4 separate regions of the Homo sapiens genome follow, and regions 1, 2 and 4 are each linked to region 3. The links come from fine-mapping of genetic effects on gene expression. A gene starts in region 3. Each other region holds a variant in brackets. All regions are shown on one strand. Distances are from middle to middle. Region 1 has its middle 19 kb from the start of LINC02561. Region 2 has its middle 41 kb from the start of LINC02561. Region 3 holds the start of AKR1C8 (aldo-keto reductase family 1 member C8). Region 4 has its middle 40 kb from the start of AKR1C3.

Evidence for each region. PIP is the estimated chance that this variant, and not a neighbour inherited with it, causes the effect.
Region 1: its variant is fine-mapped to the expression of AKR1C8 in whole blood (TOPMed, PIP above 0.99).
Region 2: its variant is fine-mapped to the expression of AKR1C8 in blood mononuclear cells (TOPMed, PIP above 0.99).
Region 4: its variant is fine-mapped to the expression of AKR1C8 in whole blood (TOPMed, PIP above 0.99).

The regions. Positions count from the first base shown.
Region 1 is chr10:5,285,730-5,293,945 of GRCh38, forward strand. It overlaps the pseudogene AKR1C7P. Among named protein-coding and RNA genes, the nearest start is that of LINC02561, 19 kb to the left of the region's middle. RefSeq lists an enhancer at 5,458-6,657. The variant T/G (reference allele first, on the strand shown) is at 4,606.
Region 2 is chr10:5,307,685-5,315,900 of GRCh38, forward strand. No RefSeq gene overlaps it. Among named protein-coding and RNA genes, the nearest start is that of LINC02561, 41 kb to the left of the region's middle. The variant C/T (reference allele first, on the strand shown) is at 3,719.
Region 3 is chr10:5,181,336-5,189,551 of GRCh38, forward strand. AKR1C8 (aldo-keto reductase family 1 member C8) reads right to left here and starts at 3,815. Exons shown (of 9, transcript NM_001395972.1): 1 at 3,677-3,815. The coding sequence starts at 3,769.
Region 4 is chr10:5,130,210-5,138,425 of GRCh38, forward strand. It overlaps a transcript of AKR1C8 not described here. Among named protein-coding and RNA genes, the nearest start is that of AKR1C3, 40 kb to the left of the region's middle. The variant T/C (reference allele first, on the strand shown) is at 4,153.

The DNA of each region.
Region 1 (8,216 bases), 100 kb after region 3:
ATAATGTGCCTTCACAATATTAGGTAAATACATTGTTCTGAGACCACATTGTTTTTCTAAATAATACATCTGAACTGACGGTGGCCTCTGGCCACTGCACACACAGAAATTTCACCTCAGTGGTGTAGAAAATGTCCTCTCTCTTCACAGGGCCATCAGCAATCTTCTCTCGAATGGCCTTTCCGACCTCCTCCTCGTTTTGGTAGAAGAACGCCGCATCAATGTGACGGAAGCCTGCATCAATAGCCACTTCGGTGGCTTCACCAGCCTTGCTCTTGGGGGTCTATAAAACAGGAGTAAGAGGAGTCAACGATCTGCCTGACTCAGAGAAAATCCATGTATTTCCACAATGGCATTTTCCTTTTTTTTTTTAATCTTTTACTTTGGGTTCAGGGACACATGTGCAGGTTTGTTATATGTGTAAACTGTGTCACAGGGGTTTGGTGTACAGATTGTCACCTGGGTAATAAGCATAGTACCCAATAAATATTTTTTCTGATCCCCTCCCTCCACCATCCTCCAACCTCAAAAGGTCCCGATGTCTGTCGTTCCCCTCCCAGTATCCCTGTGTGTTGTTCAGCTCCCACATGTAAGTGAGAACGTGCAGTATTTGGTTTTCTGTTTCTGTGTTAGTTTGATTAGGATAATGGCCTCAAATTTCATCCATGTTGCTGCAAAGGACGTGATCTAGTTCTTTTTTGTGGCTTCACAGTATTCCACGGTGTTTATGTACCACATTTTCTTTATCTGGTCTACCACGGACGGGCATTTAGGTTGAGCCCATGTCTCTGCTATCCAATAGCATCTTCATAGTCTGCTGGCCTCCTGCTCCCCTTTTGATCATTTGGGTTTCCATGATAGACTTGCACACTCCGAGGACAGCAACTAACCTCCTGTAAGCTTCTACTCCCAAATAAATTAGTGGAATTGGCTTCACCCTGGAGCATGGAAAAATCACATCTCATTCCATATGAATCAATTGTACAAGAATAACCAACGGGAAAACTTCTGATACTGGGAGAATTTTTCTAAGGCACTCAATAGGAAGGACAGGTCAATCGACACACACACACACACACACACACACACACTACATACATATTACAGCTGACCCTTGAATAACACAGGTTTAAACTGCACAGTCCCACTTATACATGAATTTTTTTCAATCAAAATTACAAAGTGTGCCTACTTCTCCTGCCTCCCTTCCCCCTCCTTCACCTCTTCTGCCTCTGCCACCCCAGAGACAGCAACCCCAACCCTTCATCTTCCTCCTTCTCCTCAGCCTACACAGTGTGAAGAAGACAAGGATGAAGACCTTTGTAATGATCTACTTCCACTTAATGAGTAGCAAATATATTGTCTCTTCCTTATGATTTTCTTGAGTTTCTTTTCTCTAGCTTACTTTTCTCTAGCTTGCTGTATTATAAGAATACAGTATACCATACATATAACATGCAAAATAGGTGTTAATCAACTGTTTATGTTATTAGTAAGGGTTGCAGTCAATAGTTGGCCTGGTTTTACCCAGGACACAGACGTCACCTCACCAAGCTGGCGTTGCAACGTTAGGATGATAATATGTACACGCTCTGCCTCAAATTTCAAACAGTGGATAGTCTAATGACTACATCTGAGATTCTGCCCTAGCAAGCTTCCTAGAACAGCAGGACAAAAGACAGCACAACACACACGCAGGAAAAAAGCTTCTCGTTCCTGCAGTGACTTAAGGTAAAAACACCAATTAGAGTATTAAGGAAGCTTCTTTTTCACTTAGTGCATTTGAAATGTCTGAATATTAAGCACGTGCACGTATTACAATTTATTATGGTAAATGAGGGGGTTATGGGGAATTTTGTTCTATTCTCTATGGCACTTTTTTCTGTCTTTTCTAAGAGTAATAAACATTACATATAACATATGTAAGACACACATTATGCCTAATGGATGAAATGGATAATTATGTCATTGAAAACCTACTGACCCTTTCTGGCAGCTGTTATCTCGTGATATCTCATGACAGAGTTCTACCAAGATTGAGCCCATCCATTGGTCTCTCATTTTGGGGGCAATCCCTCCAAAGCAACCCCAAAGCTGCCCTTACGTTACCGTGACCAGAGTGTGACACTTCAAGTTCTCTGCCATGAACTGAGTGGATGGCTGTATTTCAGTCCTTACTGTGATGTTGTGCCCCCTAAGTCTTCCCATCGAATTACCTAATGTTCTGAATCACAGTGGCTTCTTACGTGACAAAAGGTTTGGATGGTCGAAACTCCCTGGCAAATACTTCCAGCCCCAACAACCTCACAGCAAAGCTGCCAGCAAGTATTCATGTTGGTTTCCACTTCCCCCTAGGCCCTTGGCCCTTCACATTTCTAACCAGGAGTGGAGCGGCTCTGAGCAGGTGGAAGATGAGAGCAGCCTGAGCATGGGTTTTTTTTTTTTTTTTTTTAATGTAAGAAGTAGTGAGTACTTACCAAGGACGGTTGTTGAAGAATTAAATAAGATAATGCATGGAAAATACAATACATGAAACCATTTGATATATGTTAGGTCACAATAATAATAATAAAAAGAATTATCCAAAAAATTAACCTCCAAACTCTCAGAGTCAACAGCTTATCATCCTCTTAGTGCAAAAAAATATAAGACCCTTCAGCCTCCTGGGGTCCACTTACATGATCAGGAGCATAAGTGCCAAATCCCAGCATCGGCATGACATGTCCATCATTCAGCCTCACGGAATGGCTTTGCTTCAGATCCATCACCACCCACAGCTCAGCTAATCTGACTCTGCCTTTCCTTCCATTTCCTGACTGAGAGCCCAGTAGGAGACAAGGCTGCCACGTTCTTTATTTCCATCAATACAAGATGGGCAGGGCAGAGATTACAGCTGCCTATAATTTCAACATGAAGTTGAAATCAATCCATTGACTTTGTTCTGATTCTTCCATGTCTCTGCAGGCCTGTCTTACAGGAAAATCGTACAGAAAGATTTGCATGCTAGAGGAGTTTGAATTTTCTCTTCAGTGTTGTACACACTTGATTTCTAAGTTAAAAAATTTAAAATGCCAAAAGAAACTATCAACAGAGTAAACAGACAACCTACAAAATGAGAGATTTTTACAAACCATGCATCTGACAAAGGTCTAATATCCAGCATCTATAAGGAACTTAAACAAATTTACACGAATGAAACAAACAACCCCAATAAAAAGTGGGCAAAGGACATGAACAGACACTTCTCAAGAGGAGGCAAACATGCAGCCAACAAATATGAAAAATGCTCAACATCACAGATCATTAGAGAAATGCAAATCAAAACCACAAGGAGACACCATCTCACACCAGTTAGAATGGCTATTATTAAAAAGTCAAAAAAATGACAGATGCTGGCAAGGTTGTGGAGAGGAATGAACGCTTATACACGGTTGGTGGGAGTATAGATTAGATCAGCCATTGTGAAAGACAGTCTGGTGATTCCCCAAAAGACCTAAAGTCAGAAGTGCCATTCAACCTAGCAATCCCATTAGTGGGCATATACCCAAAGGAATATAAATTCTTATATTATAAAGATGCATGCTTGTGTATGTTCATTGCAGCACTATTCACAATAGCAAGGACATGAAATCAACCCAAATGCCCATCAGTGATGGACTGGATAAAGAGGATGTGGTGCATGTACACCATGGAATACTATGCAGCCATAAAAAAGAATTAGATCACATGCTTTGCAGGAATATGGATGGAGATAGTGGCTGTTATCCTTAGCAAACTAACACAGGAACAGAAAACCAAATACTGTATGTTCTCACTTATAAGTGGGAGCTAAATGATGAGAACACATACGGGGCAACAACACACACTGGGGCCTATCAGTGGGTGGAGGGTGGGAGGAGGGAGAGGATCAAGAAAAATAACTAATGGGTACTGGGCTTAATACCTGGGTGATGAAACAATCAGTACAACAAACCCGCATGACACAGGTTTACCTGTGTAACAAACCTGGACATCCTGAACACGTACCCCTGAACTTAAAATAAAAGTTCAAAAAAAGCATGCAAATATGTCTTTGATAATGGCACCAGACTTATTTTACAAGGTATAAAACTATCATTAGGCTAGTGAATCTAAACACTAATTTTCCCAGAGTACCTAAGTTAGCTTCCTCACCATTCCTTTCATCATAAATCCCATAACAATACCTCACTGAAAATTTATTGAACAAAGCCTGACACCTGGTCCCAAGCACACACGTAACAACATTTCTTAGGAAGACCTACTCCTACTTTCATTATCTTTGTCTCCTGTACCAAGGACCGTTTCGTTTTTTGATTCTCATTGTCTTGTTTTCTTTTTTTTTTTTTTTTTCTTTTTTTGAGACGGAGTCTCGCTCTTTTGCCCAGGCCGGAGTGCAGTGGCGCGATCTCGGCTCAGTGCAAGCTCCACCTCCCAGGTTCACGCCATTCTCCTGCCTCAGCCTCCCGAGTAGCTGGGACTACAGGCGCCCGCCACCACGCCCGGCTAAATTTTTTGCATTTTTTTAGTAGAGACGGGGTTTCACCGTGTTAGCCAGGATGGTCTCGATCTTGTTTTCTTGAATCC[T/G]TTTGGTGAGAAAAAATTGTCTGAAATCATGGATAAATGTCTGTATTCTTGCCTTTCTTTCAGCCATTGCCTCTTTCTGGAACAGCTTTCTCTATCCCACCTAGTTTTCAGCAGTTTAATGACTTCTTACTTATCTAAAATGCACCTCCTCCAGTCACACATCCTTTATGACTCCTTCTATGATCTCCCTAGATGAAGCTGATGCCCTTCCCTGCATACTCTTTAGCTTCTACCGTCCAGGCCAAAAAACCACATCATTCAAATTACATTCTCAACTAATAAGGAACTTCTGCTACATAAAACACCTAACTCATGTTTTCTTTAATGTTTCTATTATACTGTGCTTCTTGCAACCTGTATTTGTGCCATCCGTATTTTACAGCCAATTATGAAACATACAATTATAATTTATCTTACTTTCAACTCATCCCTCTGGCTGGTCAAGGTCAGAACTCTGTCTGATTCTATGAGTCCATGTGGTTACATTTATCTCAACATTGTGTTTGCTATAAATTTGATGAGAATATCCTTTATATTCCATTGCTAAAGCTTTTGCACTAAATAGAGATGTTCCGTATCAAGTCACAAGAAAATTCTGTCTTCATTGATGTGAACTGCCTGGAGTCCACAATTCAACAGGTTAAAAATTTGTCTAACGTTCAGTCCACCCGCCAGCTAAAAACTGAGGCCTTAAAGAACTGAGCAAGCTTGTTCTCCTCTCAGAGCTAGTCTCAGCCACCAGCATCACCTTTTTAGCTGCACTGAAAGAAATCCTGGCGGGTTTTCTCTAGTGGGGACCACCAGATAGGATGATGAGGGGATAAAGAATTTCTTCCCACCTTCTTGGTGATGTCTTTGTCCCTGTGTCACTCTCATTGAAGTAGCTCCCCAGTCCCTACTGTGTCTCTCCATCTCACTCCTCAGTTTTAGTTTCTTCAGAACAATTGTGATCAGAGCAATTGCCTGAATTATTCACACCAAGTGAGTTATTTATCAGAGGAATAAAGGATGTTTGAGCCATTCCATATCAAGTATCATCTTGTTTTAAAACATTTTGCTGGACAGAAAGAAAAGTCATTATTTACAGCAAAACTACAAAGAGTTGGATACAGCCCCAAAACTCTGATAGGAGATTTAACCATACAGAACAAGAGTTCAGCAAGGATGCTGCAATTCACGAGGAAAGGCTAACCCAGGGTTATGAGAGAAATGTTAACATTGCATGGCGATAAAATGCCAAATACCTTGCTGTGGTTTGAATGTGTCCCCCAAAGTCCATGTGTTGAAAGTATAATCCCCAGTGCAACAGTGTAAAGACGTGCCCTCTAAGAGGTCACTAGGTCATAACGGCCCTGCTGTCATGAAGCACTGACCTTATTATTGCGAAAACGGGTCCATTATCGTGAGAGTGGGTTTATTGCAAAAGTCATTTCAGCCCTCTCTTGTCTCTCATCCTCTTACCCCTGCGCTCGTGCCCCCTGCCTTCTGCCATGGGATGACACAGCACAAATGTCCTCACCAGATGTGGGGCCTGTGATCTGGGACTTTCAAGACTCCAAGACTGAGCCAAACAACTTTCTGTTTTTTATGAGTCACTCAGTCTCGGCTATTCTGTTACACAACAGGAAACAGACTAAGACACACCCATATAATCCTCTCTGAATAAATGGGAATCCATTGTCAAGCAACAAAGAGAAATGCTGCCCGACTCTCTGGGGAAACACACCTTACCCCTCTTTTACCACCCCCACATAAGTAGGGAGCCAAAAAGATCAGCTTTCAGAGTTCTCAAAATGCCTTCTGAAAAGTCTGGTTAAGACCACACCTTCTGACCGGGAGTCTGGTTCGTTAAGACTGCTGTGACAAAGTACTGTACACTGGGAGGGTTATAAACAAAAGACATAGATAGCTCACAGATCTGAAAGCTAAAAGTCCAAGATCAAGGTGCTGGCAGATTCAGGGTCTGGCGGGGGCCTGCATCCCGTGTCACAGACAGCTGTCCTCTCACTGTCCTCATGTGGCGAAACAGGCACGCAATCTCTCTGGGGGCTATTTTATCAGAAGCACTGGTATAGTTTGGACATTTGTCCCTTCCAAATCCCATGTTCAAGTTTGATCCCCATTGTTGGAGATGGAGTCTAATGGGAGGCTTGGGGGCCATGGGGTAGACGCCTCATGAAGAGATGAATGCCCTCCCAGGGGAGGGGGGTAAGGTCTTACTCTATTAGTTCCCATGAGAGCTAGTTGTTAAAAAGAACCTGGCCCCTCCCCTCCTTCCTGCTTCCTGTCTCACCACACGATCTCCGCACACACCAGCTCCCCTTCACCTTCTTCCACACTTGGAAGCAGCCTGAGGCCCTCACCAGAAGCCCAGTCCTGAAACTTCCAGCCAGCAGAACTGTGAGCTGAATAAACTTCTTTTCTCTATAAATTACCCAGCTTCAAGTCCTCCTTTATAGCAACAATAAATGGACTAAGAGGGGCTCTAATCCCATTCATGAGGGTTCCACCCTCACGACCTAATCACCTCCACAGGACCCACCACCAAATAGCATCACCTTGGGGGTTAAGGCTTCATATACGACTTTGGTGGGGATGTAAAGATTCCATTCATTGCACAGGGCAAAGGGAGGCCATAGCAGCAGGGTCATAGTGTTCTGGGGCTGCTCACTGCCCCTCACTCCCAGGCCTGCCCCACCCCAGCCAAGGCCTTCATGCTGCTCTGGGCTACCTCTCCCAGGTCCTGCATCCCAAGCAAAGGTACAGACTCAATTGAGATCTCCTGAGACTCACTCCCTGCCCCTGCAACAAGATGGACATGTCCTTGTCAAGTTCTTCTCTAGGAAAATGTGGGCATCACATAGAGACTCGTACCTACCTGTGCAGAGGTTTTCCAGAGCCTCGATCACCCCCTCTGTCTCATCATTGGTTTCTGGCTTCAGTCTCACCTTCTTGGTGATGTCTTTGTCCCTGTGTCATTCTAATCAAAGTAGCTCCCCAGTCCCCACTGTGTCTCTCCATCTTACTCCTCAGTTTTAGTTCCTTCAGAACAATTGTGACCAGAGCAATTGCCTGAATTATTCACTTATTTTGTGGTATGTTTTCATATTTATTGACTGATTTCTCCAACACTAATCACCACACCTAGAAAAGCTCCCTAGTATGTGGTCAGTGCTCAATAAATATTTGCGGAATGAATGAAATTGAGTTCTAAGCATAGGCACAGTGGGGTTTTTTTTTTTTTTAAGTTTTTCTGTGCTCTGTTCTTATTTTCTGTGATCTGCAAACTATCTCTAAATCCTTATGAAAGATTGCGTCCAACACTGTTTTTTGCAGTGGGAAATTGAGAGGCCCATGTTGCACTCAAACAGAGCAGCAAAGCATTCGTCATCCCTCCCCTCAGGGCTGGGACTAACAGCAGGGCCTTCCTCAGCAGAGTACAGCTATGCCCAGCTGAGTGACAAATGCTCTAGTCAGAGAACACAGCAGCACAGGAGGCCAGCATGGTGGCCACAGGGGGAGTTCACGCGTGGCCGCTTGTGGACAGGTGCAGGGTGGCAGCCCTGAGGAGGTTCAGAACACCAGGGGCATCTTGAGGTAACAGCATCAGT
Region 2 (8,216 bases), 130 kb after region 3:
CAACTGGAGAACCCACATGTTGGCGTGGGCAGAGTCCACACAGGAAATGAAGGAAAGGCAGATCCATTAGAACGATATTGATAGGATCTCACATCGCAGAAGGGGGGAGCAGTTATGAGAAAAATATGCTCAACACTGACAAATGCTGGGGGAAAAAACTATAACTCCACACTGCCAACTGAGGAAACAGCAAGAAGCTGTTGGTTAAAGCCACCAAAGCTCCCGGAACATTACAAGTTGCCCAACGAAGAAGGGGCCAGTATGAAGAAAGGGAGAAGGAACACAGGGACCCCTGAGGCTGCATCCCAAAAGAAGATGACCATCCTAGAGGAGAAGGAGCTGTGAAATCCTCATTGTCACCGCAGCTTACTTTGCAGAGGGCACAGTAATTTTTCAACAAGTGAGGTGGGAGGTTCGAGAGGTCTAAGTGGGTATTCAAATCAATAGTACAATCTAAATTATAACCTGACTCTGATTTGGGAGTGTGGTGACTAATGTATTTCGGGAAGAAGATCATTGCTGCATGTGCCAAATGACAAACAGGTGACACAAGTTAGCAAAGTTTTTTGTTTTGTTTTTATTAAAGAATACTTAGTGCTAATGAGGATATGGTGAAATAACTGTCTACTCAAGAATGAAAATTAATATTAACCTTTTGTACAACAATGTTGCAATATATATCAACATGTTTACATCATTTGATATAGTAATTCCAATTCTAAGATTTTTAATTAAGTAAATAATTTATAATATGGAGTAAGCCTTATGTTTATCTCAGGGTTATTTATGATAGGAAAAAACTAAACTCAAACTAAATTTTTCATGACAGAGGAATTATTGAGTAAATTATGGTACACATTTCAAGTGGAAAATCAGGCAAATGTTACAAATAATAACTGAAAGTTTTTAATAACTTGGAGAAATAGTAATTATATAACATTAAGCAGGAGAAATAAGATATAAAATTTTATATGCATTATTACATCAGTTCTGCTTTTTTAAGTCCATATAAAAAATTCACAAGATGCCAAGTATAATGTTCTCTGCAAAGAAGAATTGAGGTGATATATTTCCTTCTCTTTCAAATTTTCCTTACTCATCCTGCAATATTTTTATAATCAGAAAAGGTCATCCGGGCATTCAGGGATGAGAGCTGTTAGAAGGATTCCAGGAGTCTCACAGGCTAAAGCAGGTGAGGAGGGCTTCATGAAAGTAGTGGGACTTGAATTAGAATCTGACGGGAAAAAAAAAATTATACACTGAAGAGGAGTGAACGTTCCTGGCAGGCAGAATGATGACAACACGAACAAGATGGGGTGGTGAGTTAGGTGCAAAGAGTTGACCAGTTGGCTGGAGAGAAAGGAGACTTTGTGTATTGGAATATTGGAATTTAAGAGTAATCAGATGAATATAATATTGATGGAATGGAAGAATAAAGCTATTGAATAGTTTTGATCAACAAAAAAGACTCATGTGTTTTCTTCTAGCTTTAATTTTCATTAAACCCTCAAAACAATGGTTGGCATAGGAAGTGTTTGACAAACATTTGTGGGATGAATGAATGAGGAAACAAAGTCCAGGGTAGAAAACATTCTGTAAGTGCCGTTTAAATGCCTTTATTTTCTTCTGCAATCAAGTGTCTCTCCAAGATGATAGAGTAAGGTAGCCTCTCCACCTTTCAGCTCTGCTAATTTGCAAGTCAGACATATTGAGCTTCTGAAAATTTCACAGACCCACTCTCCCTTGGAAAAAATGATAGAGATAAAGTAAATGAAATAATTACTTCTCTACTATTCACCAGGGTCGTATATTACTCAGCTGAGGAAAATGATGATGTGTGCCATTTACTAGTTTAAAAAAAAAAAAAACACTAAACAAAAACTCTATGTAAAATTTCAAATTAAAAGCTTTTCCTAAGCATGGGGTTTATCTATTTCACAATGAAGACTGCATATTTTTCATCTTCCTTTCTAAATAGCTATTGATTACATTCAATTAATTCAGAATCTGATATAAAAAGATTTTCCTAAGACCTAACTCTCAAAAGAGCTAGAAAATGATGTCCAGGTGTTTGAAGCCAAGTCTCACACCAAAGCCCATGGGCTCCACCATCAGTCATCCTGCCTGCTGCCTCTCATATCTCCATCTCCAGCTGGCTGGTGCTGTGAGTTGTTCCATCGGCCCTTACCTCCACTCCACCCTTGGATTTACATTGTCTTGAGTTCTTGTATCTTACAAAATGTATAAGCTGTCAGTCAGCTAACCTGAAAGTCCAACTGTAATTCATGACCAACAGAGAGAAGAGGATAAGCATGCTCCCACCCAAAGCCCTTTTTCTACACAAGCAGCCAAGCACTGCTCTGTCCTCAGACCTCATCTGCCTGAGCTTTCATACATTGTTGTTCACCATCCCTCTTTTTAAAAATTCACCACTTGGCTTCTTCAAGTATTTCTTAAAACGTGATTCTTGGTCCTCTTCCTTCCTTCTTTACTCTCTTATATGTGTACGTCATGCAATGCTGCACATTTAATCCTATCAGGAAGGGTGATGAGGCATAAAGAGGACAGATTTGGAATCAAGCAAACATAGGTTTTCTGTGTGTGTTGGTTCGGTTTGTGTGTTTTTTTAGAGACAGGATCTCACTGGGTCACCCAGGCTACAATGCAGTGGTACAGTCCTTGCTCACTGCCCCCTTAACTTCCTGGGCTCAAGTGATCCACCACAGCCTCCCGAGTAGCTGAGACTATGGGTGTGTGCCATCACACCTGTCTAATTTTTTAATTATTTTTGTAGAGACTGGGTCTCACTGTGTTGCCCAGGCTAATAGCGAACTCCTATTGTCAAGGGATCCTCCCACCTTGGCATCCCAAAGTTCTGGGATTACAAGCATGAGCAACCATGCCCAGCCAAGCATATGTAGGTTTGAATATCAGTTCCACTACTTACTATTCTCTGTTGAATTACCTAATCTATATGAGCCAAACAATATTTTCCTTACTGAGAGGTTGTGGAGATTACATGAGGCCATAGTCAGGCTTACCGCATGGTACATGCTCAATACATGTGAGTTATCCTTATAATCATTATTAGGTGTGTGTTAACATGGGGATATTTGCTGATAATTAATTAATAGTAAGACTAAGCTTGACTGATGCTGGAGAACCAGGGTTCAGGAATTTGAGAATGATTGCCTTTGGGACACACACTTTTGGAAGAGGCCTTCCACCTGACCCTCCACGTCACTGCATTTTCTTGCCAGCTATGCCCAGAATGCATGGTCCTGACTGCATCTTGCCTGGGCTGTGTCTCAGGGTTGTGCTTATAGCAAGCAGCCTTCAGGGAGGAAGTAATGTCTTTCCCTAGGCAAAGGGCAGGCTTCCCTCCACTTGCTCTAAAGCCATGAACCCTCCAAGCTCATTGTTCCCAACCCACTACATGTGGGAATCTGTGCAGGTGCCTAGCATGTCAGTGGTGCTGACAGGTCAAGTAACACAAGAAGGGAGAGTGGATTGTTTGGTTTGACAAAATGAATGTCGCTGGTGTCCCTGAGAAGAATCAAGTTTGCTGGTGTCCTTGAGAGAAAAAGCACCATGGGAGTGAGTTCAAAAGAGCATGTTAGAGGCCGGGCATGGTGGCTCAAGCCTGTAATCCCAGCACTTTGGGAGGCTGAGGCGGGCAGATCACGAGGTCAGGAGATCAAGACCATCCTGGCTAACA[C/T]GGTGAAACCCCGTCTCTACTAAAAATACAAAAAAGTAGCTGGGTATGGTGATGGGCGCCTGTAGTCCCAGCTACTCAGGAGGCTGAGGCAGGAGAATGGTGTGAACCTGGGAGGCAGAGCTTGCAGTGAGCCAAGATCGCACCACTGCACTCCAGCCTAGACCTGGGCAACAGAGTGAGACTCCGTCTCAAAAAAAAAAAAAAAAGCATGTTGGAAAAGAGGGTTAAGTTGTTGAATAGAAACTTTTTAAGGCACTTTTTGCCAGAAGAGAAATGAGAAAATGAGAAATTCTCATGCTCCCTCTAAGAAAACTTACTCTTAACGGTTATAAAGGATTGTGTGATTCATAAGGAACTACTTATGAATACTATCTTATGAATACTACTGATGAATACTACTTATGAATACTTAAAGGATTCATAAGGAACTACTTATGAATACTTAAAGGATTCATAAGGAACTACTTATGAATACTATCTTAGCATGTTAACCTTCCCATAAAGTATTTATCATTTACAGGAAAAAAAAAATGTTTTCAACCAAAGCTGTCACCCTTTCCTGTTTGGGCCACAAGCCAGCCTGAGACAGAGGCTGGAGGCTGGAAAGCTCTGCCTGTCCCCCCGCCACACTGCAGACACATGGCATTCTGGTGACCAGGCTGCATTTGACAAGCCACAGGTTGAAGCTCTGTAGCCCTCTTGGTTTTATTGCCCCTTAAAGGAGATTTTAAATACATCACAAAGACTTAGGAGGGAGGATGCTGTCTTAGTCCATTTTCTGTTGTTATAACAGAATACCTGAGACCAGGTAATTTATAAAGAAAAGAAATGTATTTCTTATGGTTCTGGAGGCTGGGAAGTCCAAGGTTGAGGGACTGCATCTTGTGAGGGCCTTCATGCTGTGTGATAACATGGTGGAGGGCATCAGCAAATGTGCCAGCTCAGGTCCCTCTTCCTCCTCTTTTAAAGCCACCAGGCCCATCATGGGAGCCCCACCCTCTCAACCTTATCTAATCCTATTTACCTCCCAAAGGTGCCACCTTTAAATACCATCAACATATGAATTTGGGGATTAAGTTTCCAACACATGAAATCTGGGGGCTACATTCAAACCATAGCAGATGCTAATTCAGACACCAAGAAGAGTCACTAAAACAGCAACAATTGACTCTTGACTTTGAAGTGTTGTTAGATGATGTCAAGTACCCTATTGCCCACAATAGCACAAGAGAGTATAATATTTATGAGCCCATATTCTGACGCTTGCTGGAATAACAGCACCTCTGCTGATTAGGGGAAATCATACCTACAGTAAGCGTATTTCAAGAGCTGGCACCCATTGCAAACCAGTCATCCACCTCTTCCCTGAAAGGGACTAGGCATTGAAGTTTTTCTTATGCCAAGAAAGTACTTCTTTTACTCCACATGCCGCCAGTGTTCTCTGTCAAGAGTGAGAAGTTGAGATAGGAGGAAATAACAAGGAGACTTTCTAGAACCATCCAACTGAAAGGAGCCCTAGAGGCCACCCAGACAAGTGCCCAGAGGAGCTGGGTGATTCTCCCAAGCTCCCCCAGAAAGTCAGTGGCAGATCTGAGGTTACAACCAGGTGACCCAGTGTTCTTTGCAGAATGTCCCACTATTCAGAGGGCAATACCATTGAGTGGTGTCCCAGAGGGTGGGATTGAGCCGGGCTGCCTGGTTCAAACACCAGCCCTGCCACTTACTCACAGTGTTAGTGGACAATTTCCCTAACTTTTCTGGGCCTCCCTTTCCTTGGTCTGCAATAAATTGGACAAACTGCTTAACCTCCCTGGTCACCAGTATTCTCCTCTACAAAATACGGTGATAGTAATACCTTCTAGGAGTGTTGAAATGATTTAATCACTTGAGACATTAAAAAGAAAAAAACACTTGGCTCATGATAGAAAGAGCACTCAAACCTTAACTTTATTATCATTGCCTCTCTGAGATGGGTGAGTATGAGTTAGACAATGACTTTGCCTGAAAAGAGCCTGAAGTTGTTTAAGGAAGACAAAAAAGATTTAATAAAAATTCTTTTGGTTGTGGAAATGGTTAACGATGGGTGTGAAAGCCGAGGAATAATTACCCTTCACTGGGGTACCGTGGCAGCCCTTCAGGGACTCCCCCGGCAGAGCCAATGGGCCTGTCCTTGGGGAAGTTGTGAGCTTGTTCAGACCGGGTCCTTGAATAACACAGTAGACCACCCCTTTAGGGTGGCTTCATGGTTGAGGGAAGGAAGGCCCCTAAGATCAAAGCCCCTAAGAACTTCGACCAATGTCCAGCATCCAACAGACCACTTGGGGTAGAGGCATGGGATCTGAGCTACGGTTGTGGAGGACTGATGTCAGCAGAGCCCAGGGGCTGCAGGGGTTGTGGTGGGAGGTGGGGGACTTAAGGATATCACCCAGCCCACAACAGCCCTAAATAACCCTGTGGGTCCAGGTCTTCTCACTTGCTTCTGGATCTAGAATGAGTTCCTGGGAGAGAAAGTAAGAAGTGAAGGGAACATCAACAGTACTGGTGGTCAGAGGGTTCCTGGTACTTGGTACCACTGCCCAACACTCAAACCTAAAGTCACTTTGCTGAAAAGATAGCAGCCATTCCAGGCAATATTGTAAAAGTTGTGTTATCTTAACATTACGCTTCCTTGTGAAAGTCATTTTCCATACTCTCAGTAATTGCTTTAAAATGAGATTTTTATCAGTTCTTTTCTGCTGCACTTTGAGATTGATGCCTGTGAAGTGTTAGAATGCAGAGCTCAACTTAAGGCCAAAGCACAATTCGAAACTTCTCTCACCCCATCCACCAAGATTTGTCTTCACTCTTTCATCCGTTCATTCAATAAACGCTAAATGAGCATTCTGCATCAGACACTACATTGAGGAGGTGCAGATGGGAGCTCCCGCTGAAGAAATGATGCAATATGTGTGTATCTTAAACTAGGATCCCTAGAAAGACTGACACAGACAGCTGCATGCAGAATGTCTTGAGGGAGTGTTCCCAGGAGATACACCTGTGAGGACATGAGAAAGCAAGACTGGGCCCAGAGAGAAGATGACCCAGGAAGCAGCTGCAACAGAGGTCTTGGCTGCAGCTGCAACAGAGGTCTTGGCTATACCTGCAGAGAGCTCTAGATTGTGGATAATCCTTCTATGTTGTCTCAAATTGAGGCAAGGGGCTGGCACTTCAGATGTCTGCACCAGCAGTCATTGGCAGTGAACCACGCCAGAAGGGTGAATAGTGACCTTGGGTGGGGCTGTTTCCTGCCCAGTGAGGGGCCCAGCTGTGAACCATCCTGCCATCCTGAGAATCTCTAGAACTATAAACAAAATTCATCAAGCCACACTGATGGCCACATCCTTTCCCCTTAAATGATGTGGGGGCATACTCCCTCTCCCTTGAGCTACACCTTCTCCCCATGCCCTTAGAACATTCAAATGAGTAAAGGGAAAGAGTTTTCCTATTAACATATCCCTCCAGACAAATGAGAACTCAGATCATCTGACCTAATGCTTCACATTTGCTGAGAGTTTAATTAGCCAGAAGAGCACCTATTGCCTCATTAACCCTCTAACTGTGGGCCATTAGCAGTTAGAAAAGCAAACACAGCAGCTGAACAAAGCAAATACACGCTGGCCATCGCTAAGGTTGAAGATTGCCCAGGTGGTAGTTACCTGGGCAGCAAGTTGTTGCTAATCCTGTCTAGGTGAGCATGGCTAATAGGCCTTCTGTGTCTTAAAGCAGGACACCGTGAAAGGGAGATGGGAGAGTAAACCAAGACAGCCGCCAAAGGCTCCGTTTCTTTGTTTTGCTGAGGAGCAGGCTGAAAACACGGAGTCCGGGCATGTTGGTTCCTGGCCACACATCTGCAGCGCCTGGACAACAGGGTCTGGGGTGTGTGGTTGGGTGGAGGGAGGTGAAGGTAAGGTCAGAAAGGTGGAAAGAAAGAGACAAAGGACTGCCCTTACTGTAACATGGACATTGACGAGCAGAGCTAAATGCAATGGAAGAATAGAGAATAAAGGCTGAAAGCTGTTGTGTAAAGGAAGAAGAGCAGATGTTAGAAGTCATCTCACAATTTATAATCCTTTGGGTATATACCCAGTAATGGGATGGCTGGGTCAAATGGTATTTCTACTTCTAGATCCCTGAGGAACCGCCACACTGACTTCCACAATGGTTGAGCTAGTTTACAGTCCCATCAACCGTGTAAAAGTATTCCTATTTCTCCACATCCTCTCCAGCACCTGTTGTTTCCTGACTTTTTAATGATCGCCATTCAACAATGATAGACCGGATTAAGAAAATGTGGCACATATACACATACTATGCAGCCATAAAAAATGATGAGTTCATGTCCTTTGTAGGGACATGGATGAAGCTGGAAACCATCATTCTCAGCAAACTATCGTGAGGACAAAAAAACCAAACACCGCATGTTCTCACTCATAGGTGGGAATTGAACAATGAGAACACA
Region 3 (8,216 bases):
AAGTCATAATAAAGACTAATAAAAAGTTTTTACTTTTTCAAATGTTTAAATCATTTTAACAAAACAAATGACTTATGGTAATCTGAAATTCTGTTTCATAATATCAATTGGCTTTAAACTTCTAACATATTCGACAGGCTTCCCAAAATTAAACTTGAGTTTCAAGATTGTCTTCCCTGACCCCTAATGTTTAAATACTACAGAAGGCCCCTAAAACAACCCCAAAAAAGTGAACAGGATCACTTGACATATTTAAATATGTGAGACTGCCAAAATGATATTTAATCTTCCTCAAGTTATATTTCAGTAAATAATATTAATGTATGTTCCAAAACCATATAAGATGTCTAAGATTCTAATGTCTAAATATATACTGTCAATCATAATTAAGGTTATTGTGTTAAACTATTGTAAACCACAGAAATAACCAAATTACTTTGTCAATCATATTCTTAGCTACAACTACCCTGGACATTTTGTCATTCACAGGCAATTGTTACCTTGTTTTAATCCACTTCAAAAGATGATTTATAATCAACTATAAGACTTTAACAAACACTCTCAAATACAAGTTTCTAATAAAAAAACATGCAAGACTCACAAAAAACTAAAATGTTTATAAATATCAAACAGAACAAGAGTTAACAAAATAGACTAATAGAAAACTGAAGTAATCCTTTTTAACTTTTCACTAAAAAATTACTGATCATCATTTTGTTTTTTTCAGAGTCAAAAAACTTTTGAAAGAACTACAACTTTTAACGATTGAATAACATACACTTCTGTGAACAAAATTTAAAACATATTTATTTATCTCTACCTGGTTCCTCTGAAATTCAGAAACTAATTATAAATATTCAAGACTTATAACAATATAATTGCTTACATCAGTACAATAAAAATCCATTTTCTTTTACAAGACACAATTTTTAAAAATGATTATTTTACCAAGACTTTGACTGGAAGGATATATTTCCCTTTGAATAATCAAACTTAACTTCCGAAACCAATAAAAACCTCTTAGAAAAACTGGCCTCATACCTTGTCTATGCAGTTCCCAAACAGGGTTCCTAACCTATAATAAATAAAGAATGTCACTTTCTAACAGGCTCAAGAACCCTATATTCTTGGGACCTCAAAAAGAGAAAAATTGACCCAACTCATAAATATTTGAGAGTACAAACCCATGACTAGACTCAACTTTAAACTGAGGTATTATTATCTGAGGTTACTTATGGAATAGAATTCCATCAAAACCAATTTAAAAACCCTATATAAAATAATTATTGTAAGGCCAGGTGTGGTGGCTTATGCCTGTAATCCTAGCACTTTGGGAGGCCGAGGCAGGCAGATTGCCTGAGCTCAGGAGTTCGAGACCAGCCTGGGCAACATAGTGAAACCCTGTCTCTACGAAAATACAAAAAATAAGCTGGGTGTGGCAGCATGCACCTGTAGTCCCAGCTACTCAAGAGGCTGAGGTAGGAGAACTGCTTGAACCCAGGAGGCGGAGGTTGTAGTGAGCCGAGATCATGCCATTGCACTCCAGCCTGGGCAGGAGAGCAGACTCTGTCTCAAAAAAAAAAAAAATTATTCTTACTATTCTTTATACAGATAATCAGACCAAATATGAAACTAAAATTTATTTTACAAACAACTCAGTACTATCCTATCATGACTTGTTTTTGACAAAAATAAGAACTAGAGAGAAAAATAGTGTGTCAAACTTGCCATACATTTGTTATTAAATTCTAGTCTCACTAATTATTTTTAAATGTTTACCTACATTTTAGACTAACCCTACTTATTCTTATGAACTAACCAACAATCTCTGACTACAACAAAAAATAAAAACAGTAAAAGATAAATAATATAAAATTTAGAACAATATTCTAGTTCTGAACAATTATCCTACAAATCCTACCAGGTCATAGGAATATATAGAATACCCATAATCCAGAGGTTGCTTTATTTGAGAAAAGAAGACCAAAAAAACTAAGCAAAACCAAGCTCCATACACCGAAATCGTAACAGACATAACTATAACTACCAATTATCAGGACGTATCAACAACCTCAGAATTTTTAAACTATCCTTATCCCCCCTTATTTCATTTTAATACATGTACTCTAATAGCCCAAATTATTTCTTCTCACATAAAAACTATCAAACTCTAAATGGTAATACTAATAACACCACACATAAACATATCTTTCTTCCAAAGATCATTAAACCAACCCCAGGAAGAACTCTAACTACTGTTCCCCACATGACACCACCATCCGACAAAAAAATAGCCAGAAAAGTCAACACCCAATCTCCCTGACAATTAGGGACTCCACTCCTGAGGGTAAAAATGAGAGAAAAAACTTAAACAGTTAGAGTGAGTTCTTGGTAAAACTCCTTTAAACAGAGAAACAGCTTGAAAAAAATCAGACTACACACACAGATAAGGAAACTTACACAAACCTCCAGCTCACTCAGATAAAAAAACAAGGCCCAACATCAAAATGCCTTTGTCCTTTATGCCTAAGACATGGCAACAACTGCACTCATATGAGAACAAGAACCAACAGAGAAACACATTTGTCTTTTGTGTAACCAACAGACTTCTAGGAAAGTCTCTTTTTCTTTTGTGGGCATGTATATGGTGGGCTCCAGTGGGCTCTGGTGGGCACTTTCCTTTCCTTTTGTGGACATGTGGACCGTGAGATGAGCCTTTATGAATTATCATTCAGCATCTGACTGCTCCTGGGCCAAGGTCCCAGGCCAAGCTATCACTTCAACTCCTGATTGGTCCCAGACCAAGGTCCCAGGACAAGCTGAGTTACACTTTCTCCAAGACCAGTCAACAAATTCTTTTCTTTCCCAGTCCATCAAAACCCTAGACCTGACCTCATAGTTAACAATCCATCCAGGCCCCCTCTCTACTCGAGAAAATCTTCCTTCTTTCACTTATTAAACTTTCACTCCAACCTTACCCTTTGTGTCCACAGTCCTTAATTTTCTCAGTCATAAGACAAAAAACTTCAGATAATCCCTCAAAATGAAAGACTACTATATTTTTAATACATTGATGAGACTGTAACAGAATCGCAGTGGCTTCTTATATAGCAAAAAGTTTGGATGGTTGAAACTCTCTGGCAAATACTTCCAGCCCCAATAACCTCACAGCAAAGCTGCCACTAAGTATTCATTTTGGCTTTTGATTCCTCCTGGGTCCTTGGCCCTTCACATTTCTAACCAAGAGTAGAGTGGCTCTGACCAGAGCAAAAGATGAGAACAGTCTGAGCTTGCATTTTTAAAACGTAACAAATTTTAATGAGTACTTACCTAGGCCAGTTGTTAAGGAATTAAATAAGATAATGCATGTAAAACACCTAAAATACATGGAAAGCATTTGATATATTAGGTAACATTGATACTTTTAATAGAAATAAAGATAATATACCCACAAAATTATCAATCTCAGAATCCCCACAATCAATAACTTGCCATGCCACTTAAAGCAAAAAAGATCTCTGTGACCTTGAGAGGAGCAAGTTAGAGACAGTTAAATGAAATCCCAGATGAGCCCTTCCAAGCATCCACTGTCTACCCAAGTGCAGGGCTCTTGCCTGATGACTGCCCTGCAAGTACAGCTGACCTAAGAAACTTCAGCCTCCTGGGGTCCACTTACATGATCAGGAGCATAAGTGCCAAATCCCAGCACTGGCATGAAGGGTCCATCATTCAGCCTCACTGAATGGCTTTGCTTCAGATCCGTCATCATCCCCAGCTAACCTGTCTTTCCTCCTTTTCCTCACTGACAGCCCAGTAGGAGACAAGGCTCCTGCGTTCTTTATTTGCACCAAATGCAGGATGGGCGGGATGGAGATGACAGCTGCCAATGATTTCAAAATGAAACTGGAATCAGTCCAGTGCCTTTTCTCTGATTCTTATGTCTCTGTGGGAGTATTTTACAGAAAACTCACTCAGAAATGCTGTGAATGCCAGAGGACTTTGATTTTCTCCTCCGTGTTGTTCACACTTGATTCCTTAGTTGAAAAATGAACCACACCAATTTGTCCTTGATAAGTACACTAGACTTCCTTTACAAGAGGCAAAGTTATTATTAGGGTGGTCATTTCAAAACACTAATTCTACTACAGAACTGAAGTTAACTTTCTCACTTATATTTGATTGTTAATCCCTTTAAAACAGCTTATTAGAATTCCTTGAATAACGCTTGAGGCCTAGTGCCAGCCATGCATGTAATGAAATTTCTTAAGAACACCCACCCCTATTCCCAGTATATTTCCCTCCTGTGTCAAGCCACACTCCATTTTCTCTGACTTGTTTCCTTGAATGTTTTGCAGAAAAAACTTGTCTGAGATCATGGATACATTTCTATGCTCTTGCCTTTGTTCCAGCCATTGTCTCTTTTTAGAACAGCCTGCTTAACTCCCTCCTGGTCTCCAGCGGGTTTCTTATCTTTTACTTATCCTAAAAGCACCTCCTACAGTCTAACATCCTTTATGACTCCTTCTTTTTATTGTTGTTTTTTGTTTGTTTGTTTTGAACAAAGATAGGAGATAGCAAAGCAGCCTGGGTCTTAACAGAACAGCTTGGAATTCCAGGGCCTAAATTGCTTTTGCAAACATAAACACACACACAGCAACCATGAGAAAAATGAAAATTAAAAATGGCTTCCAATTCAGATGCCAAGAGGCTCAGCCTAAATGGCCTTCTGCATAATTCACTTTGGACACTTTCATCCTCTGTAGGTGAGGACAACAGGTCTGGACCAAGGTTAATACCTTAAATGGTTCGAAATAACTGACTTTGGGCAGGGTGCAGTGCCTCATGCCTGTAATCCCAGCACTTTGGGAGGCTGAGGTGGGCGGATCATGAGGTCAGGAGGTCGAGACCATCCTGGCTAACACGGTGAAACCCTGTCTCCACTAAAAATACAAAAAATTAGCCGGGCGTGGTGGTGGGCACCTGTAATCGCAGCTACTCAAGAGGCTGAGGCAGGAGAATGGCATGAACCCGGGAGGCGGAGCTTGCAGTGAGCCAAGATTGCACCACTGCACTCCAGCCTGGGTGACAGAGCAAGACTCCTTCTCAAAAAAATAAAATAAAATAACATAACATAACAGACTTTGAAATAATCAGCAGGGTAACCAGTTATTGCTAAAAACACCTCTTCATCTTTTTTTTTATTTTTTTCAAATTTTAAGTAATAGATTTAATTATCACATTATGAAATACTATAAAAAGAGAAGATGACTTCTTCTATAACCTCCCTGGGTGAGGTTGACCAGCCTTCTCTGTGTGCCTCTTATTCTCTTAGCTTCTATGAAGCAGGTCAAAAAAAATCACATCATTGAAATTACACTCTCCACTAATAAGGAGCTTCTGCTAGATAAGATGCTTAAGTGGTATTTTCTTTGGTGTTTTTATTATGCGGTGCTTTCTCCAACATGTATTTGTGCCATTGGTATCTTAGAGGCAATCCTGAAACATGACGTTGTCATTTATCTTATTTTGAACCCATAGCTCTGGCTGCTCAAGGTCCGAATTCTGCCTGATTCTGATTCCCTGTAGTTTATAATTATCACAACATTGTATCAGTTATAAATCTGGCAAGTATACTATTTATATTACACTGGTAAAACTGTAGAACCCTACAGAGATGGGGTTAAGTTCTGTGTCAAGTCACAAAAAAAGCATGTCTATTAATGGTAATAGCCTGAAGCTCATCATTCACTAGATTAAAAATTTGTCTAACATGTTTGCAATATTAACCTGTATTTTGCACTAAATGGTTTACCCAAGTAAGAGACATTTCTCTGTCACTTCCCTAATTTAGCAGTCTAGGAAATTTGTTAGTGAAAGAGAGTGTGCCAATTTTATTCTTAGTAAATCCAAAGCAGGGCTTCATGCTCCCTTAAACTTGCCTTAAGCATTATCCTAAAACATTTACAGATTTGACGTCATGCTTTGTAGCAAGCACTTTTCAGAATCCATCTTCCCTAACTGGAAAGGTGTTCGTCCATGGTTTCCTGGCACTATTTTTACTTCCTCAGGTTTTCAAAAGCTACCAAGGATATGAGTTGCTCTCAGGGAGCTCATGGTTTATTGGATAAGAGGTGGGCAGATGGCAAATTGTTCCCCTGTGATCCCTGCCTCCTGGTATTTATGGCCCTGTATAATGTGTATAATGCCCTCTCATCAACTGTGACTAGTACTTGTGTCTTTATTCTAAACAATTGACTATTGTAAAGAAGAGTGATATTATTTCCATCATTAGGAAATACAAAATTGTAATTTCCATTGTGCTAGGAAACTCTACTGTTTTCTCAGTTTTCAAACTTTGATAAAATTGGTGGCAACATAGGAGAGGCTCACATGGAGAGGAGCTGAGTGGGGCCTCTGGTCACCAGCCAGCTCAAAACTGAGGCTTTCATTCAGACAGTCCAGAAGAAACCAAACCCTGCCAGTTCCCCCCTGACCTTGGAAGCAGGTTATTCCCCTCTAAGCCTTCAGGAGACCCTGCTTTAGACTTATGCCTTTACTGCAGCCCATTGAGGATCTGAGCAGAGGTACTAGATCAACTCTGCATGGCTGCACACAAGTCACTACAACCTTAGCAGCTTAAAACCTACACAAGGTGACAGAGTGCAAATGGCAATTATAATATAGCAAGGCACCCAAGGAAACAGAAGGAAACGTGCAATTCTGGAAGAAGAGGTAGAAGGAGTGCCAGAAAATATGTTGCAATGGCCTCCATGGAACACATTCAAGAATTATATGAAAGTGTATTTCATTCAAAAATAAATAGTGAGTAGCTATAACGTGCAAGATACTGTTGTCGGCATTAAAAACAGACAAAAATCGAAGCCTGCATTGAACTCACTTTCAAGGAGACAGAAACGGACAAAAAACTAATAATTACATAGAATGAAAACCATGTTGTATGATAGGAAGCACTGTGAAGGGAAAAAAGTAGGGAAAGGTGTAGAGTATGGAAAGAGGGCAGGGACAATTGAAATTACAAATAGCTTAATAGCTTAAGCAGGGGATCCTCACTGAGACAGAGACATTTAAGAAAAGACCTGAAGGAGTGGAGGAAGCCAGCCTTGCTGACAGCTGAGGGAAAAGGGCTTCAAGCAGAGGGATCCTGAAGGGCATAGTCCCTGTAGCCAGGGAAGGCCACGTGTGATCTGGGAACAGCAGGATTAGGAAAGAGGTCAGAAAGGAAGGGAAGGCCATGTTTCGGCAGAGCCCTGTAGGCCACTGAAAGCATTTGGCTTTCACTCTAGGACAGATAAGAAGACACTGAATGAAACTGAGCTGCTGTGTAGAGAGTAGAATGTAGGTTGGTGAGGGATAAAAGTGGAAAACTAGTTAGGAAGCTACTTAATAACCAATGTAAGAAATTGAGTAATTTGGAACAGGATGGTTGTAAAGCAGGTGAGGAGAAGTGGTCAGATTCTGGGTAATTTTTAAGGTGAACATCAGAGGCCTTGTTCACAGATTTTATATTGGTTATGAGAGAATATTAAAAGGCAAGAATCACTCCCCAAATTTAGTTCTTTATGATGGAAAGAAAGGAATCATTGAGACTGTGAAAATTTAAGGTGGAGCTAAATTGCATGGAGATTAAATAAATTTTTTTCTGTGGCATCCTGAGCTTGAAATGCCCATTAGACCCTCAAGAGGAGGTGCTGAATGGACAATTTGTCATTCCAGTCTGAATTATTGGGGAAAGGTCTGAACTGGAGTTCAGATTACAGCCTGCTGAAGGTTCAGATGATTGTTAGCATTTTGTAACAAAATTTTTTTTAAATTAAGGTATGTACATTGTTTCCTTAGATACTATTGCTCACCTAATGTATTACAGAATAGTGTATGCATAATTTTTATATGCAGTTGAAATAAAAAAATTATGTAATTCATTTTTGTGCTATTTTTTATGTTGGTGGTCTGGAACCCAACATTTAATATCTATAACGTATGCCTGTGTACTATGTCTTGATTATCTCTTGTCAGAGTTTTTGACTAAATTGTATTGTGTCTGGTCCTAGTATAGCTATCACAGCTCTTTTTTGGTTACTACTTTCATACAATACCTATTTCTGTCTTTCATGTTCATATTATTTATGTCCTCACCTAAAGTGAGTTTCTAGTTCAGAACATAGAGTTGGGTTCTAGATTTTTTAAAATCCATTCTG
Region 4 (8,216 bases), 51 kb before region 3:
AAATCCGCCATTGCTTTATGATTAAAACCCTCAACAAACTAGACATAAAAGGGACTTCCCTGAAAATAATAAAAGCCATATATGACAAACCCAAAGCCAACATTATACTGAATGGAGAAAAGTTTAAAACATTCCCCTGAGAACTGGTTCAAGACAAGGATGCTCAATTTTACCACTTCTGTTAATATTAAACTTAATCCTGGAGGTCCTAGCCAGAGAAATCAAGAAAGAAAAAGTAAGAAAGGGCATTGAAATTTGAATAGAGGAAGTTAAAGTATTGCTGTTTGCCAATAATATAATCATATACCTACAAAACCCTAAAGACTCATCCAAAAGTCTCCTAGATTTGATAAACAAATTCAGTAAAGTATCAGGTTACAAAATCAATGTACAGAAATTGATTTCTGCCATAAACCAGCAACAACCATGCTGAGAGTCAAATTAAGAAATCAAGCCCTTTACAACAGCTGTAAATAAAATAAAATAAAATCCCTAGGAACATATTTAATCAAAGAGATGAAACATCTCTACAAGGAAAACTATAAAACACTGCTAAAAGAAATGATACATAAGACAAACAAATGGAAAAACATCCCATGCTTACAGATAGAATCAATACTCTGAAAATGGCCATATTCTAAATTCATATGGAACCACAAAAGAGCCACAATAACCAAAGCAATACTAAGCAAAAAGAAGAAATCTGGAGGCAGTACATTACCAGACTTTGAATTATACTAGAAGGCTGTAGTTAGGAAAGGAGCATAGTATTAATATAAAAATAGGCATTTAGATAAATGAAACAAAATAGAGAACCCAGAAATGAAGTCAAATACTGATCTTTGATAAAGCAAACAAAAACATAAATTGGGGAAAAGACTCTATTCAATAAATGGTGCTGGGATAACTGGTAAGCCACATGTAGAAGAATGAAACTGGATACCATCTCTCCTTATACACAAATCAACTCAAGATGGATCAAAAACTTAAGTCTAAGACCTGAAACCATAAAAATTCTAGAAGATAACATTGGAAAAACTCTTCCTTACATTGGCCTCGACAAAGAATTTATCTCTAAGACCCCCAAAAGCAAATGCACAAAAAACAAAAATAAATAAATGGGACCTAATTAAACTAAAATAATTCTGCACAGCAAAAGAAATAATCATGAGAGTAAAGAGACAACCTACAGAATGAGAGAAAATTTTTGCAAACTACGCTTCCATCAAAGGACTATTGTCCAGAATCTCCAAGGAACTCAAACAAGTCAGCAAGATAAAAACAAATAATCCCATCCAAAAGTGGGCAAATGACACGAATAGACATTTCTCAAAAGTAGATATACAAACAGCCAACAAACATATGAAAAAAGGTTCAACATTACTAATAATCAGGGAAGTGCAAATTAAAACCACAGTGAGACACCACCTTACTCCTGCAAGAATGGTTATAATTTAAAAGTAAAAAAAAAAACAAAAACAGTAGAAGTTGGCATGAATGTAGTGAAAAGAGAACACTTTTACATTGCTGGTGGGAATGTAAATGAGTAAAACTCCTATGGAAAACAGTATGGAGATTCCTCAAAGAACTCAGAAGTAGATCTGCCATTTGATCCATCAGTCCCACTACTGGCATCTATCAAAAAGAAAAGCTTGCATGAAAAAGACACATGCACACACGTGTATAGCAGTGCAATTCACAATTGCAAAAATATAAAACCAACCTAAGAGTCCGTTGACCAATGCATGAATAATGAAAATGTGTTATATGTACATCATAGAATGGTGTATATGTAAAAAGGATTGAAATAATGTCTTTTGTAGCAACTTGGATGGAGATTAAGGCCATTATTCTAAGTAATTCAGGAATGGAAAACCAAACACAGTACCTTCTCACTTATAAGTGGGAACTAAGCTATGAGGATGTAAAGACATACAGATGATATAATGGCCTTTCAGGACTCAGTGTTGGGGGAGGTTGGGAGTAAGGTGAGGGATAAAAGCCTACATATTGAGTACAGTGTCCACTGATGGCCTGATGGGCTCGCTTAAATCTCAGAATCATCACTATAGAATTCATTCATGTAACCAAAATCCACTTGTACCACAAAAGCCATTGAAATTAAAAAATGAGCGCATAAAAAATATTTTACTGATCTGAGCTGTGGCTCAAAAAAGTAAAGTGATTTTCAAGTAACAAATTTGAACACAACAATGATGAGAAAGACATCATCATTTGCCGCCTTTTATTTTAGTTTTAATACATGAATATGTGTCAATAAATTGGAACCAATAAGCACAATTCACCCACCTACAGATCCAGTTACAGAATTGTCATCTCCACACTATCACATTAAATACATGTGCATGCATGCTTATCATAGGCACAGTACCTTTGAAGTGTAGAATATGTCTTCTCTCTTCACACTGTCATCTGCAATCTTGCTTCAGATGGCCAGTCCAACCTGCTCCTCATTATTGTATAAATGAGCAGAATCAATATGGAAGAAACCAGCTTCTATTGCTAATTTTGTAACCTCCACAACTCTATTCCTAGGAACCCGGAGGAGTAATGAAAAGTAGTATTTGGTGATCAATGTGCTCAACAGGTAGTTCAGGCACAAACAATGACCCTCACAAAAATCACATTATTCTTGCATCTTGGGTTAGTTCTATATATGGGGTGATAAATCCATCCCAATTTGCTTTAGTCTTTCCTGCTTAGTAATAAATGTTGGGTATCCCTGGACCTCTTCAATCCCAGGTAATTCCTGGTTGATCACTAGCAATGAGTTTCCCAAGAACAACCTCAGATTCAGTCATTTGTTGGACAAATTAACAAGACTCAAATTACAGTTATAAATATAGTCTTTATTATTACTATTATTATTTGAGACAGAGTCTCACTCTGTCACCCAGGCTAGAGTACAGTGGCACAATCTCAGCTCACTGAAAACTCTGCCCCTCCCCCACTTCATCTCGGACTGAAACAATCCTCTCACCTCCGTCTCCCCAAATAGCTAGGACCACAGATGCGCGCTATTATGCCAGTTAAATTTTTGTATTTTTGGTAGGTACGGGGTTTCGCTATGTTGCCCAGGCTCAAGCTCCCAAACTCAAGGGATCCACCTGCCTCTGCCGCCCAAAATGCTGCGATTACAGGCGTGAGCCACTGCAGGAAGCCTCCTAATTATTTTTAATATAGTGAAATTAACACATGGAAGAAGGCACATGGAAGGAACTACAGGAAGAATACAGTGCAAGTTCCTATGATTCCTCTCTCAGTGATGTTGCACAAAACACACTGACTTCCTCCAGCATCACATTTTGAGAATATAGGGGAAATGTTGTCTACAAGGGATGCTATTTGGACACTTCATTCCCAAGATTTACCTGGGTACTGATTACATTGACCCAGTCTGTGTACCACACACAAAACTCCAAGTCTTGTAAACAAAGCAGATATGTAGAAACCCCACACTTTGTACAAGCAGTTAATTATAGACAGCACCCTTATTAGTTAGGAAATGGTGAGAAATTCTGGCCTCCAACTTTGAAAACAGGTACATCTACGGGTGGCAGTCTGTTGTGTTCACTCCTTTCTACACAGCCATTAGCCATTCTGTGTGCATGACAGAAGTAAATATGACGAGTAAAGACATACACTCCAAGGATGTAGATTTATACATAAGAAATTAACTGCAACCTGTAAAAGATTAGTAAAGTATATTTTAGTCTTAAAAAATAAGGACAACTTTTTTAGGAAAGATATAATTTCAGTGAAATTTAAAATTATTGATTTATCTACCAAATTTGGATGAAGATTTGAAAGGTACATTTTTTAAACAACAAAGCCATGAATAGAACAATTTTCTATTTTAATATGAGTATTTCAGAAGCTTTCTATTTTCAATGATATTAAAAGGAACTAGATGCCAGGTCTCACTGCCTTCCCCTGATACCAGCCCTGATCTTCTCTTTGCTGTGGAGGCACTCAAGGTTTACCAAGGCTAAAGCTTCCATGTTGTGCTTTTCCTTACTTCCCCCTCATGCCAATTTTCATTACAAAGTAAACCGCTAGTGTTGATGGTCTTCAAGATGTCTCTCTGTAAATTCTTACAATGTACAGTTGAGAAAAGTGAGACAAATTTTA[T/C]ATGACTAGTCCTTATTCAAGCACTTAGTAGCCTTGGAATACACGTTTTCTTCCAGTATAGAAATAGTTCAGTCTAGAAAATAAAGTCTCCATTTTGCCTACTTTCATGTCAGGGGACCATCCATACCATTTTGATACAAATCTGATGCATATTAACATGGACCAAAAATCTAAAATTTCTCCTTCGAGGTTCTAGTTTTTTCTTAAAGTTATTTTTCCTTTTAATTTTCCTAGAGGTGAAAGTTGTACATGGGAACTTGTATTAAGTCCAAGACCAGTATTATTACTCTGTCATGCTCAAGGCCACACAGCAGCTCAGCAATACTCTCCCTAAGAGTTTTCATACACCCCGTCTCCAGACACTGTTACCACAAAGATTTTGTTCGATCATGTATACTTGGAAGAACAAACAATTTCTTCAATTATAGAAAGAAACGGAGAAACCATTCCACTGCAGTCAATCACCTACAAAAGGAAATGCCAGGCAGCGTTCTTCACTCTTGAGTTTTAAATATTCTGCAAAGCTGGGAACACCCATAAACAGAAGAAAAAAACAGTGCACAAAATAAAAGTAAGCAGTACACGACCATATGACCAGACCCCAATGCAGAACAAAGATTGACTACCTTTTCTCTTTGAACATGGAATAGCTCTGGCCTATTAAAACAGACCAGGTGAGTCACGCAGAGTAACACAGGAACACAAAGCTAAAACCCAAGTCATCTACTTATTCTAGCTTTGCTCTTTTAAATGCCCAACACTGAAAATATGATTATGTTACCTCTGGAGGTACACAGGTGCCAAATCCTAATACAGGCATGAAATGACCATCATTTAGCTCCACACACTGATATTTGGGATCCATTGAATGTCATTCCTTTCGCTAAGCAGACACGGTTTCCTTCTTCAACATCCAGCATTTATATTCACAGGTTGTATAAACAATGGGCAGGCAATGCTACACTGCCCACTGTCTGGGGCTGACCAATGTCATGTAGGAAGAGGCAAGTGATGGTGTATTACACAGGCTATGAAGAAAATTGAATCCAGTGCACTTGTTTTTTATCAAAGAGAATTCTTAAGTACATTTTAATATAGTCAGAATAAAATTATTATTTTCTTACTAAAGTAAAATTTTCCATCTGGAATCTATCTATCTATCTATCTATCTGGCTATCTATTATCTATCTATCTATCATCTATCATCTATCTATCTATCATCTATCATCTGTCTATCTCATAAATTCCTCCAATAGATTTATAGAATGATTAATTATCATATGTTGGACTATAAAACAACTCCAGCAACAAGTCTCGTTTTTGTTCATGCCGTGATGATGTTTCATCTTTATTTTATGTCATATAAATGATCAATCATTGTACATCTTTCTCTCACATGATGCTAAAGGAATGACTAGTAAGCATTTTTTAACAGGTGACAATAAAAAAGTTAAACATTAAAACCAAAGAAAATTTCTCCTTTTACCTTTCCATCAGCAAATATTTTGGGTTTTTTTTCTTTGCATTGTAGAAGGAATATTCATTCCTGATGAAAATGCAGTCCTGATGATGTTGTAATCCTGACAAGGGTTCAAAGGAAAAAGAAAATGCAGAAATTATGACATGATGTTTATTGGAGTATTAATTAACAATGTCTGGTCTTTGGACATCATTTGTAATATGGAAACAGTGCCTTATAGTATTTGTATCTTTCACATAGTTTTATAAGAAACTATCAAAGGTAATGTTCCAAAAAACTGGTAACTATTTTACATAATTTGTGATCCTGTTAAATGTTATTCATAAAACTGGAATCTAATTACAATAAATTGGTGAATAATCCTCACATGCCTTAATTTTTACTTGTGTCTCTCTTTGGAGGGCAAATTTGAATGTAATGATTGGGCCAGACACGTTGGCTCACACCCGTAATCCCAGCACTTTGGGAGGCTGAGGTAGGTGGATCACTTGAGATCCAGTGTTCAAGACCAGCCTGGCGAATATGACGAAACCTCGTCTCTACCAAAAATACAAAAATTAGCCACGTGTGGTGGCAAATGCCTATAATTCCAGCTACTCAAGAGGCTGAGGCAGGAGATAAGTTCAACCTGGGAGGCAGAGGCTACAGTGAGCCAAGGTCATACCACTGTATTCCAGTTTGCATGATCCATGATTAACATCCCTGATGAATCCACACCAATATCTGTTGTTTTTTGACATTTTAAGAATAGTCATTCTCACTTGTGTAAAATGATATCTTAATGTGCTTTGCTATGTGTTTCATAAGTGTACATTAAATGTAAATGGCTTAAATTTCCACATCAAAAGGACAATTTGCAGAATGGGTTTTAAAAAATCCAGGATGCAACTATATGTTCTGAATCAGAAACTTCCTTTAGAGGAGGACATAAATAGTGTGAACATGAAGGACAACAATAAGTATTTTAAGAAAATAGTAACCAAAGAAAAGGTGTGATAGCTGTACTAGAATCAGACGAAATAACATTTAGTCAAAAATTCTGACAAGAGATAAACAAGATATAAAACACAGGCATATTTTATAGCTATTAAAAGTCACATTCCAGACCACCAACATAAAGCAAATACCACAATAAAATGAATCACATAAATTTTTAAATTTCAACTGTATGTAAAAATTATGTTTACACTATTTTATATTAGGTAAGCAATAGTATCTGTCTAAGGAAACAATATACATATCTTAATTTAAACATTTTTTGTTACAAAATGCTAACAATTTTCTGAACCTTCAGCAGGATGTAATCTTTTGGCTGCTAGAAACTATTCCCTCACTGGGAGTCCATTCCAAGATGGCTGAATATGAACAGCTCCCATCTGCAGCTCCCAGCGTGATTGATGCAGAAGACAGAGGCCAGCATCATCCTGATACCAAAGCCTGGCAGAGACACAACAAAAAAGAGAATTTTAGACCAATATCCCTGATGAGCATCAAGGCAAAAATCCTCAATAAAATACTGGCAAACCGAATCCAGCAGCACATCAAAAAGCTTATCCACCAAGATCAAGTTAGCTTCATCCCTGGGATGCAAGACTGGTTCAACATACACAAATCAATAAACGTAATCTATCACATAAACAGGACCAACAACAAAAATCACATGATTATCTCAATAGATGGAGAAAAGGCCTTCGACAAAATTCAACCCTGCTTCATGCTAAAAACTCTCAATAAACTAGGTAATAAGAGCTATTTATGACAAACCCACAGCCAATATCATACTGAATGGGCAAAAACTGGAAGCATTCCCTTTGAAAACTGGCACAATATTGGGGCAACTTGCCCCCAATACTTCAGTGTATGTTCTTTCTATTTTCCATGAGTGTCAGCCAGCTGAGAAATAAAGAGAGACAGTATAAAGAGAGGAATTTTACAACTGGGCCGCCAGGGGTGACATCACATATCAGTAGGACCGTGATGCCTGCCTGAGCCTCAAAACCAGCAAATTTTTATTAAGGATTTCAAAAGGGGAGGGGGTGTAAGAACAGGGAATAGGTACAAAGATCACATGCTTCAAAGGGCAAAAAGCAGAACTACTAATAAGGGTCTAAGAAAGATCACATGCTTCTGAGGGAACAGGACAAAGGGCAAAAGCAGAACTACTGATAAGGGTCCAACAAAGATCATAAGGCAAAGGGCAAAAGCAGAACTACTGATAAGGGTCTATGTTCAGCGGTGCACGTACTGTCTTGATAAACATCTTACACAACAGAAAACAGGGTTCGAAAGCAGAGAACTGGTCTGACCACAAATTTACCAGAGTGGAGTTTTTCCACACCCTAGTAAGCCCAAGGGTACTGCAGGAGACCAGGGTGTATCTCAGCCCTTATCTCAACCACATAAGAAAAACATTCCCAGAGCGGCCGTTTATAGACCTCACCCCAGTAATGCATTCCCTTCCCAGGGTATTAATATTAATATTCCTTGCTAGGAAAAGAATTTAGTGATATCTTCCCTACTTGCACGTCCATTTATAGGCTGTTTGCAAAAAGAAAAATATGGCTCTTTTTGCCTGACCCTGCAG